Linked DNA regions of Homo sapiens: region 1 is linked to region 2. The links come from fine-mapping of genetic effects on gene expression. A gene starts in region 2. The other region holds a variant in brackets. All regions are shown on one strand. Distances are between the middles of the regions.

Region 1 (5,514 bases), 29 kb after region 2:
TGGGAGGCCAAGGTAGGTGGATCAGTTGAGGTCAGGAATTGGAGACCAGCCTGGCCAACATGGTGAAACCCATCTCTACTAAAAATGCAAAAATTAGCCAGGCGTGGTGGCACACACCTGTAATCCCAGCTACTGGGGAGGCTGAGGCAGGAGAATTGCTTGAACTTAGGAGGCAGAGGTTGCAGTGAGCTGAGATCATGCCACTGCACTCCAGCCTGGGAGATGGAGCGAGACTCCATCTCAAAAGTATAAATAAATAAAAGAATAATAATAATAAGGGGCTGGGCACAGTGGCTCATACCTATAATCCCAGCACTTTCGGGAGGCTGAGGTGGGAGGATTGCTTGAGTCTAGGAGCTTGAGGCTGCAGTGAATCATGATCATGTCACTGCATTCTACCCTGGGCGATAGAGTGAGACTCAATCTCTAAAAATAGTTTTTTGTTTTTTTTTTTGAGATGGAGTTTCGCTCTTGTTGCCCAGGCTGGAGTGCAATGGTGCGACCTTGGCTCACCGCAACCTCTGCCTCCCGGGTTCAAGCGATTCTCCTGCCTCAGCCTCCTGAGTAGCTGGGATTACAGGCATGTGCCACCACACCCAGCTAATTTTGTATTTTTAGTAAAGACAGGGTTTCTCCATGTTGGTCAGGCTGGTTTCAAATTCCTGACCTCAGGTGATTTGCCCGCCTTGGTCTCTCAAAGTGCTGGGGTTACAGGCATGAGCTATCGCGTCCAGCCACTGCTTGGATTCTGAGGTCAAGTGGCCCTAGGTTCAAATTCTGGCTCAGCCCTTTTAAAAAATTTTTTAAAAGAGGGAAATAGCAGTCCCTGCTTGGTTCTTGCCTCTGAATCAGGCCCTCTCTCCACCTTCTCCAACCCAGGCACACAGGATATCACCGATGCCAGCGAAAGGGGGCTCCACATGCAGAAGCTGGGGTCTGGGTCAGTGCAGGCTGCGCTGGCGGAGCTGGTGGCCCTGCCCTGTCTCTTTACCCTGCAGCCACGGCCAAGCGCAGCCCGAGATGCCCCTCGGATAAAGTGGACCAAGGTGCGGACTGCGTCGGGCCAGCGACAGGACTTGCCCATCCTGGTGGCCAAGGACAATGTCGTGAGGGTGGCCAAAAGCTGGCAGGGACGAGTGTCACTGCCTTCCTACCCCCGGCGCCGAGCCAACGCCACGCTACTTCTGGGGCCACTGAGGGCCAGTGACTCTGGGCTGTACCGCTGCCAGGTGGTGAGGGGCATCGAGGATGAGCAGGACCTGGTGCCCTTGGAGGTGACAGGTCAGTTGGGGGCAAAGGAGGGGCCGGGGGCCGGGGAGAGGGAGGGCTGAGCCTGGAGCCCACCCACTGAATGTCACCTTAGAAATCACTCCCTGAGACCTGGCCTGGTGTCTCATGCCTGTAATCCCAGCACTTTGGCAGGCCAAGGCGGGTGGATTGCTTGAGCACAGGAGTTCGAGACCAGCCTGGGTAACATGGTGAAACCTCGTCTCCACAGAAAATACAAAAATTAGCCAGGCATGGTGGCACATGCCTGTAGTCCAGCTACTTGGGAGGCATAGGTGGGAGGATCACTTGAGACTGGGAGGTTGAGGCTACTCCACTCCAGCCTGGATGACAGAGGGAGACCCTGTCACAAAAAAAAAAAAAAAAAAAAGGAAAGAAATCACTCTCTGAACCGGGATTCCCTTTGAATTCTTCTGATAAAGTCCTAAAGTCTTTATGGTGCCTATAATCTGAGCACTTTGGGAGGCCGAGGCGTGTGGATCAGTTGAGGTCAGGAGTTTGAGACCAGTGTGGCCAACATGGTGAAACCCCGTCTTTAAAAAAAAAAAAAAAAAATTAGCCAGGCATGGTGATGCATGCCTGTGATCCCAGCTACTTGGGAGGCTGAGGCAGGAGAACTGCTTGAACCCAGAAGGTGGAGGTTGCAGTGAGCTGAGATTGAGCCACTGCACTCCAGCCTGGGCCACACCGCGAGACTCTGTCTCAAAAGAAAAAAAACGTCTGTATCAGTATGGGTACTATCTTGTCTTTAACACCTCTCTTTTTTAGCTATGAGAGAGGAGTCTCCAGCTCAGACTTCTGGGGGCCACAATATCTAGGCAGGATTTTTGTTTGTTTGTTTTGAGATGGAGTCTCACTCTTGTTGCCCAGGCTGGAGTGCAGTGGTGCTATCTAAGCTCACTGCATCCTCCGTCTAGGCAGGATTTTACTTGGAGTCAATTTTATGGTTATCTGATTTTATGTAAGACAAAGGATACTGGCTTTCTATTTAAAATAGAAATAAAAAATTCCTTGTAAAATAAACTTAAGTTTTTTTCTAAGTGAGGCAATTTTTTAAAAGTAAGTTAATTTAAGATGTATATTAAATATTAAGCAAGAACAATTCTCAAATACCTGTTTAGGCAATTCTTTTTTTTTTTTTTTTTTTTTTTTGAGATGGGAGTCTCGCTCTGTCTCCCAGGCTGGAGTGCAGTGGCATGATCTCAACTCATCGCCAGCTCTGCCTCCCGGGTTCACACCATTCTCCTGCCTCAGCCTCCTGAGTAGCTGGGACTACAGGCGCCCGCCACAGCGCCTGGCTAATTTTTTGTATTTTTAGTAGAGACGGGGTTTCACCGTGTTAGCCAGGATGGTCTTGATCTCCTGACCTCGTGATCTGCCCACCTCGGCCTCCCAAAGTGCTAGGATTACCAGGCATGAGCCACCGCACCTGGCAACCAATTCCTTTATTAAATTCTTCTTGTTGAGCTGCGTGTGGTAGTGCACACCTGTAGTTTCAGCACTTTGGGAGGCTGAAGAGGAAGGGTCACTTCAGCCAGGAATTCAAGACCAGCCTGGGAAACATAGCAAGACCCTGTCTCTATTAGAAAAACAAAAACAAACAAACAAACAAAAAACAAAAAACGGGGATGGGGGCCCAGTGGCTCATGTCTGTAATCCCAGCACTTTGGGAGACCAAGGCAGGAGAATCACTTAAGCTCAGGAGTTTGAGACCAGCCTGGGCAAC[A/G]TAGTGAGACCTTGTCTATACAAAATTCCAAATTCCAAAACATTAGCCAGGTATGATGGTGTGTTCCTGTAGTCTTAGCTACTCAGGAGGCTGAGGTGGGAGGATTGCTTGAGTCCCAAGAGATCGAGGCTGCAGCGAGCCTTGATCATGCCACTGCACTCCAGCCTGGGCAACACAGCAAGACCCTGTCTCAAAAATAATAATAATATGGCTGGGCGCAGTGGCTCACGCCTGTAATCCCAGCATTTTGGGAGGTCGAGACGGGTGGATCATGAGGTCAGGAGTTCGAGACCAGCAGATCATGAGGTCAGGAGTTCGAGACCAGCCTGGCCAAGATGGTGAAACCCCTTCTCTACTAAAAATACAAAAATTAGCCAGGCATGGTGGCACATTCCTGTAACCCCAGCTACTCGGGAGGCTGAGGCAGGAGAATCGCTTGAACCCAGGAGGTGGAGGTTGAGGTGAGCCGAGATTGTGCTATTGCACTCCAGCCTGGGCAACAAGAGGGAAACTCCATCTTAAAAATAATAATAATAATAATAATACAACTAAATAAGCCAGATGTGGCGGCTCACACCTCTAATCTCAGCATTTTGAAAGACTAAGGCAGGAGGATTGCTTGAGCCCAGGAGTTCAAGACCAGTCTGAGCAAGATGGTGAGACCTCGTCTCTACAAAATTTTTAAAAAAATATTAGCAGGGCATGCTAGTGTGCGCCTGTAGTCTCAGCTTGTCAGGAGGCTGAGGTGGGAGGATCGCTTAAGTCTGGAAGGTTGGAAGCTGCAGTGAGCTGAGATCGCACCACTGCACTTCAGCCTGGGTGACAGAGGGAGACCCTGACTCAAATAAATAAATAAATAAATAGTCAAAAACTAAAAATAAAGAACAGGGTTTGGCACACAGTAGATGCTCAATAAATGACTCAGTGAATGGATTATTGTACAGCAAACATCCCGTGGACTCCTGCTGGGAAACCTGTTTCCCTTAACTTAAATTGACCTTGGGCAAGTCCCTGATTCCTGTCTTGGGGCTTAACCTGCATGCCCCCAAACTGGGAACTGGGGACACAGTGTCTTACCACATAGTTTATGGAGTCAACCAGTCATCCCCTTTCAGAGGCCTCATTTCTGAAAATTGATAAAAGCTAACAACAACAACAACAACAAACTGATTGGTGGTGAGGCAAGTGAATTCCACATCTAGGTAACTTCAATTTCATTCATTCAGCCAAACTCTTTTTGTTGTTGTTTGAGACAGAGTCTCACTCTGTCACCCAGGCTGGAGTTCAGTGGTGTGATCTTGGCTCACTGCACCTCTGCCTCGTGGGTTCAAGCGATTCTCCTGCTTCAGCCTCTGGAGTAGCTGGGATTACAGGTGCACACAACCACACCTGGCTAATTTTTGTATTTTTAGTAGAGACAGGGTTTCACCACATTGGCCAGGCTGGTTTCCAACTCCTAGCCTCAAGTGATCTGCCTGCCTCGGTCTTCCAAAGTGCTGGGATTACAGGCATGAGCTGCTATGCCCGGACATTCAGCCAAACATTTATTGAGCACCTACACTGTACTGGTCCAATGCTGAGGACACAGAGCTCTCAGTTGGATAAGCCAGAGCAAAGTGTTTCATTTCATTGTCTTGTTCAGCCATTTCTTTCATCCCTAAATCAGAATTTGAATCACAGTGAGCCTGTTACCAGGGCTTCACATCCTGGCTTACATGTCACCTCCTCCAGGAAGCCTTCCAGGACCACATTTCCAGGCCAGGCAAGAACCACATTTGGGCCGGGCGCGGTGGCTCATGCCTGTAATCCCAGCACTTTGGGAGGCTGAGGTGGGCGGATCACGAGGTCAGGAGATCAAGACCATCCTGGCTAACATGGTGAAACCCCATCTCTACTAAAAATAGAAAAAAATTAGCTGGGCGTGATGGCAGGCGCCTGTAGTCCCAGCTACTTGGGAGGCTGAGGCAGGAGAATGGTGTGAACCCGGGAGGCGGAGCTTGCAGTGAGCTGAGATCGCGCCACTGCACTGCAGCCTGGCGACAGAGTGAGATTCTGTCTCAAAAAATAAATAAAATAAAATAAATAAAATAAAAAATAAATAAATAAATAAAAAAGAACCACATTTGGTCTCCCATTGCTGCCTGTGCTTCCCTATTAGCGCATGCACTTAATTCCTAAAAGGCAGAAACTCTCTGTCAGCCTTCTCCACACCTCCTGCCACCTCCAGGGCCTAACCCTGGGCATGAAGAGTGCTATCTTTGGAGTCAGATCTCTCTGAATTTGAATTCTGGTTCTGTTTCTTATTTGCTGCGTGGGCCTGGACCTGTCCCTCAACCTTTCTGACCCTAAGTTTCCTCCTCTAGAACAATCAGATTTGTTGTAAGAGTTCAATAAGATAATGCTTATAAATGCTTTTCTTTTTTTTAATGTTTTAGTTTTTTTGAGATGGAGTCTTGTTCTGTCTCCCAGGCTGGAGTGCAGTGGCTCAATCCCGGCTCACC
Region 2 (5,000 bases):
GGTCCAGGCACAGCGAGGCACGGCCATCTCCTGCCTGGATGCCAGATCCACCTTCTCCCTGGCCTCTCTGCTTCCCCTGCTGCCAACAGTTCAACCTCCATGCAGCACGTGAGGCAAACTCCAAATGAACAAATCATCTATTCCCACCCTTGCTTTAAACTCTTCCATAGCTCCCACCTGCCAGAGAATAAAATCCGCCTTTCTTGCCCTGCATGTTCTGGCTGCTCTTGACCTCCCTGCCTTCCTTGCCCTCCACCCCTGGCTCTTCCTTGGACCTCCCAGCACTGCCCAGAACTTTCTCACTGCCCGAGAGGACAAGGTAGGAGGATCACTTGAGGATAAGAATTTGAGACCAACGCCGGGTGCGGTGGCTCACGCCTGTAATCCCAGCACTTTGGCAGGAGGATGGATTCAGCCTAGGAGTTCAAGACCAGCCTGGGAGACATGGCGAAACCCCACCTCTATAAAAAATTGCAAAAATAAGCTGGTCATGGTGATCTATACCTGTAGTCCCAGCTACTCAGGAGGCTGAGGTGGGAGGACTGCTTGGGTCTGACAAGTGGAGGCTGCAGTGAGCCATGATCATACCACTGCACTCCAGTCTGGGCAAAAGAGTGAGACTCTGTCCCAAAAAAAAAAAAATTAAATGCCCGTATGTGACCAGTTGCTCCTTTATTCATTACAGCAGAGCTCTAAACACTTGGTCACCTCAAGGCCTTTGCACTTGGTATTCCCACCTGGAGACACCATTCCGTCACTGGCTCTCCTTCATCCCTCAGGTCTGCTCAAATGTCACCTCCTGGGCAAGACCCTCCCTGACTACCAAGCTTAAAAGATGACCCCTCCACCTCACGGAGGACCTTGGCAGGCATTTTGTTCCTTTCTCTTAATACCAATTTCAACTGATTAGGTTACATGTTCACAGGAAAAGTTAAAAGCTTGGACTTGGGAGAGCAGAGCTTCTCTGAGCCTCAGCTTCCTCATCCACAAAAAAAGAATAACAGCACCAGCCTCAAAGTTTGCTACAGAGATGAATCCAATGCCATCACCAGGGTGACTGCTCAGGAGAGAGAACCCAGGCGTGTCTGGGAGTCAAAGGAGGCTAACACAAGTCTCTCCATCTCACCACTGTGCCTTGAGTGGCAGAGCCCAGCCTGCCACCTCCAAACTGTGTGACCTCTTACCAGATAGGCCTCCTCGCTTTGAATGTGAGCATAACGGCCAGGGGCGGTGGCCCACGCCTGTAATTCCAGAACTTTGGGAGGCCGAAGCGGGAGGATCACCTGAGGTTGGGAGTTCGACACCAGCCTGACCAACGTGGAGAAACCCCGTTTCTACTGAAAATACAAAATTAGCCAGGCATGGTGGTGCATGCCTGTAATCCCAGCTATTCGGGAGGCTGAGGCAGGAGAAACACTTGAACCCGGGAGGCGGAGGTTGCCGTGAGCCATGATCACGCCATTGCACTCCAGCCTTGGCAACAAGAGCAAAACTCCGTCTCAAATAAAAAAAAAGAAGAAGAAAGGTGAGCATAACAGACAAGGCACGGTGGCTCATGCCTCATACTCATGCCCTCCGTTATCCATGGTTCCCGAATCTGTGGATTCAACCAACCGTGGATGGAAAATAGGAAAAAAAAAATTCCACAAAGTTTCAAAAAGCAAAACTTCAATCTGCCCTACACGAAGCACTTCTTTGAATCCATGTGAATGAAGTGATGTGTAGGCCTGTATTATGTATTCTAGATGTGAGTAATCTAGGGTGATTTAAAGTATAGGGGATTAGCTGGGTGCAGTGGTTCACACCTGTAATCCCAGCACTTTGGGAGGCCAAGGTGGGTGGATCACTCGAGGTCAGGAGTTCGAGACTAGCCTGAGCAACAAGGTGAAACCCCGTCTCTACTAAAAATACAAAAAAATTAGCTGGGCATGGGGGTGTGTGCCTGTAATCCTAGCTACTCAGGGGGCTGAGGTTGCAGTGAGCTGAGATCCCCCCACGGCACTCCAGCCTGGGTGACAGAGCGAGACTCCGTCAAAAAAAAAAAAAATTAAAGAATTAGCCTGATGTGGTGGTGTGCACTTGTAGTCCCAGCTACTGGAGAAGCTGAGGCAAGAGGATCGCCCGCGCCAGAGAGATCGAGGCTACAGTGAGCCATGATCGCGCCACCGCACCCCAGCCTGGGCGACAGTGTGATACCTTGTCTCAAAAAAAAAAAAAAAAAAGGAAACAAGACGCACAGCGATTACTACGCCCCGGGGATTCTTCCAATGCATTACAAATATCAGGTTGTTGAGTTTTTTTTTTTTAGACAGGGTCTCACTTGTCACCCAGGCTGGGGGTGCAGTGGCACGACCGTAGCCCACTGCAGTGCAGCCTTGACCTCCCGGGCTCAAGCAATCCTCCCACCTTAGCCGCCCAAGTAGCTGGGACCACAGGCGTGCGCCACCACGCCCGGCTAATTTTTGTATTTTTTTAGAGACGAGATCTCACTATGTCACCTAGGCTGGTCTCGGGCTCAAGCGATCCTCCCGCCTAGGCCTCCCAAAGTGCTGGGATTACAAAGCCACCACTCCCAGCCTCAGCTACTGAATTCTTGAAACAATCCTGGGGGGACCGGTAATTAAAGCAGACACGGAGCCTTTCTACAGGTTTCAAAACTAGTCAGCGGCAGAGCTGGGATTGGACGGCAGTTCAATCACTGCTCCTCGCACGGTCCCTCCGCGCCCGGCCTTTGTCAGGCCGCCCCTCCACAAGTTACCGGCCCCCTCTGTCCCGCCCGCAGGCCCGCACCACCTTTCTTCCCCTTGAGCTGCATCTCCGGCTCCTCCATAGCGACCGCGGCCGAGCGAACCGGGAAACGGCACCGGAAGCCCGGAGGTTGGGACGCCCGCCTAAGCCTTCCCTGCTGAAACCGGACGCCGCACGGCTCCTGTTCCGGTGTCAGAGGGCCCGCCCTCCCCGCTCCTCAGTCTTTGCGGACAAGAAAGGGGCTGTGTGAGACGCAGGGAAGGAGGCACACCCGGGGGTGGCGCAGTGAGGAGGGGGCGCGACGGCCAGGAGGCTGGTGGAGCGACACCCAGGCAGGAGAGGGGGAAGAACTCTCTCCCTTTCTGAACCCCCTTTTCCTTGAGAGACGAGTTGGGGGAGTCCTCCACGCATTACCCACTCGGGCCGCAAAAACTCCCTTCTTTAGCCCTCTGCCCCCGCCCTTGCTTATAAGCCTTTGAGACCGCAGAAGGGACCTTGTTGTGGAACGGGACGGCCAAGGTACGCTGCCCCTTTAAGTTCCAGACGCCCCGCGTACTTCCCCTACTTCTTCTTCTTGAGATAGCCCCGCCCATCTACCCGAAGCCGGAGCCAATTGGCTCCCTCTGGAAAAATCTGTGGGCAGGGTAAAGGTGAGCGGGCGCAGGCGTAGTGAAATTCTCAGAGCCCTTTAGGCCCCGCCCATTCCCTCCGAGTCGGTGAGGAGGGGAAAAGAAGGCGCAGGCGCAACTGCCCTCCCAGGACCCCAGCGGAACCCACGCCCTCCCCTAAGTCTTAAAGGGCCAGAGGCAGCACTTACTGCCCGGGCCCTTCCTCACTTTTGGGGGGCGGGGGTGCGCAAGCGCAGTGGGGGAGCTCTGGGGTGGGGGTAGCGGTCGAGTATCAAGTTGCTTTCTGTCCCGGCAGAGGAAGCCAGATCGCTGAGGGTCCGGTCTCCAGTTTGCCTCCTGCTATATCCATTGGAAGAGAAAAGTTTGTGACTTGGGCCCCCAAGTTTTGAGAGAACTGGGCTTTCGGCGCGGGGGGACAGAGGAGGCTCGTGGGGAGGTGAGTGGACCTCCTGGATCGATTTAGGAGGCTCGGGTGGGACTGGGACCAATCGCACCTTTGTTGAGCCGTCACTCATTATGGGGAGCCCCTCCCAACAACCATAGCGAATATTTATTGAGCTCCACGCTTAGCAGATCCCCCGATAAGCTATGTACAGACATAATTCGTTGTAGGTCTCATTTCCACATTTTGTCGTGGAGGAAACTGAGGCTCAAAGGTTAAGTCACGTGCCCAAGTTCTCACGGCCTATAAATTGAGGGATTCGAACCCAGACAGCTGACCCCAGAGCCCCGGCTTTTTTTTCCTTTCTTTTTTTTTTTTTTTTTTTTTTTTGAGACAGAGTCTTGCTCTGTCGCCCCAGCTACAGTGCAGTGGTGCGATCTCTGCTCACCGCAACCTCCACCTCCCGAGTTCAAGCAATTCTGCCTCAGCCTCCCGAGTAGCTGGGATCACAGGCGCCCGCCACCGCGCTTGGCTAATTTTTGTATTTTTAGTACAGATGGGGTTTCACCATGGTGGCCAGCCTGGTCTCGAACTCCTGACCTCATGATCCACCCTCCTCGGCCTCCCAAAGTGCTGGGATTACAGCCGTGAGCCACTGTGCCCTGCCAGAGCCCAGGCTCTTAAACATTGCACATTGTAGGTGCTTTGGTGGTGGGGAATGGTAGACCTCGAAAGCAGTTGGACTCTGGTTTTCATTTCCCTGGCTCTGGTAATTAACCTGGACCTCAGTTTACCCACCCTCACAGTGCAAGGCTAGGTATGCAGTCGGTGCCTACTTTATTATAACTGTTGATAATTATTGTCATCTCTCCCCTTCTGACACCTCCGCCAGCTTTCCCCATGGAGCTTACCCAGCCTGCAGAAGACCTCATCCAGACCCAGCAGACCCCTGCCTCAGAACTTGGGGACCCTGAAGACCCCGGAGAGGAGGCTGCAGATGGCTCAGACACTGTGGTCCTCAGTCTCTTTCCCTGCACCCCTGAGCCTGTGAATCCTGAACCGGATGCCAGTGTTTCCTCTCCACAGGGTAGGATACCTCCTCTGGGATTAGCCCTCTGGGATTCCATGATGATGGAATGTCAGGCCTCACATGGAACCTGTGTCTTGCTTTCGTTTTTGTTTTGTTTTGTTTTGTTGTTTTTTGAGATGGAGTTTTGCTCTTGTTGCCCATGCTGGAGTGC

What was found. PIP is the estimated chance that this variant, and not a neighbour inherited with it, causes the effect. A credible set is the group of variants that fine-mapping cannot tell apart.
Region 1: its variant is the best candidate, but not a certain one, in a credible set for the expression of RFXANK in whole blood (TOPMed, PIP 0.80).

What each region holds. Positions count from the first base shown.
Region 1 is chr19:19,218,036-19,223,549 of GRCh38, forward strand. NCAN (neurocan) reads left to right here. Exons shown (of 15, transcript NM_004386.3): 3 at 880-1,281. Among named protein-coding and RNA genes, the nearest start is that of NCAN, 8.8 kb to the left of the region's middle. The variant A/G (reference allele first, on the strand shown) is at 3,014.
Region 2 is chr19:19,189,288-19,194,287 of GRCh38, forward strand. It overlaps RFXANK (regulatory factor X associated ankyrin containing protein), which reads left to right and starts at 2,971. Exons shown (of 10, transcript NM_003721.4): 1 at 2,971-3,267; 2 at 3,673-3,813; 3 at 4,652-4,846. The coding sequence starts at 4,660. BORCS8-MEF2B (BORCS8-MEF2B readthrough) reads right to left here and starts at 2,865. Exons shown (of 12, transcript NR_027308.2): 1 at 2,794-2,865. It overlaps BORCS8 (BLOC-1 related complex subunit 8), which reads right to left and starts at 2,865. Exons shown (of 6, transcript NM_001145784.2): 1 at 2,794-2,865. The coding sequence starts at 2,830. RefSeq lists an enhancer at 3,748-3,837.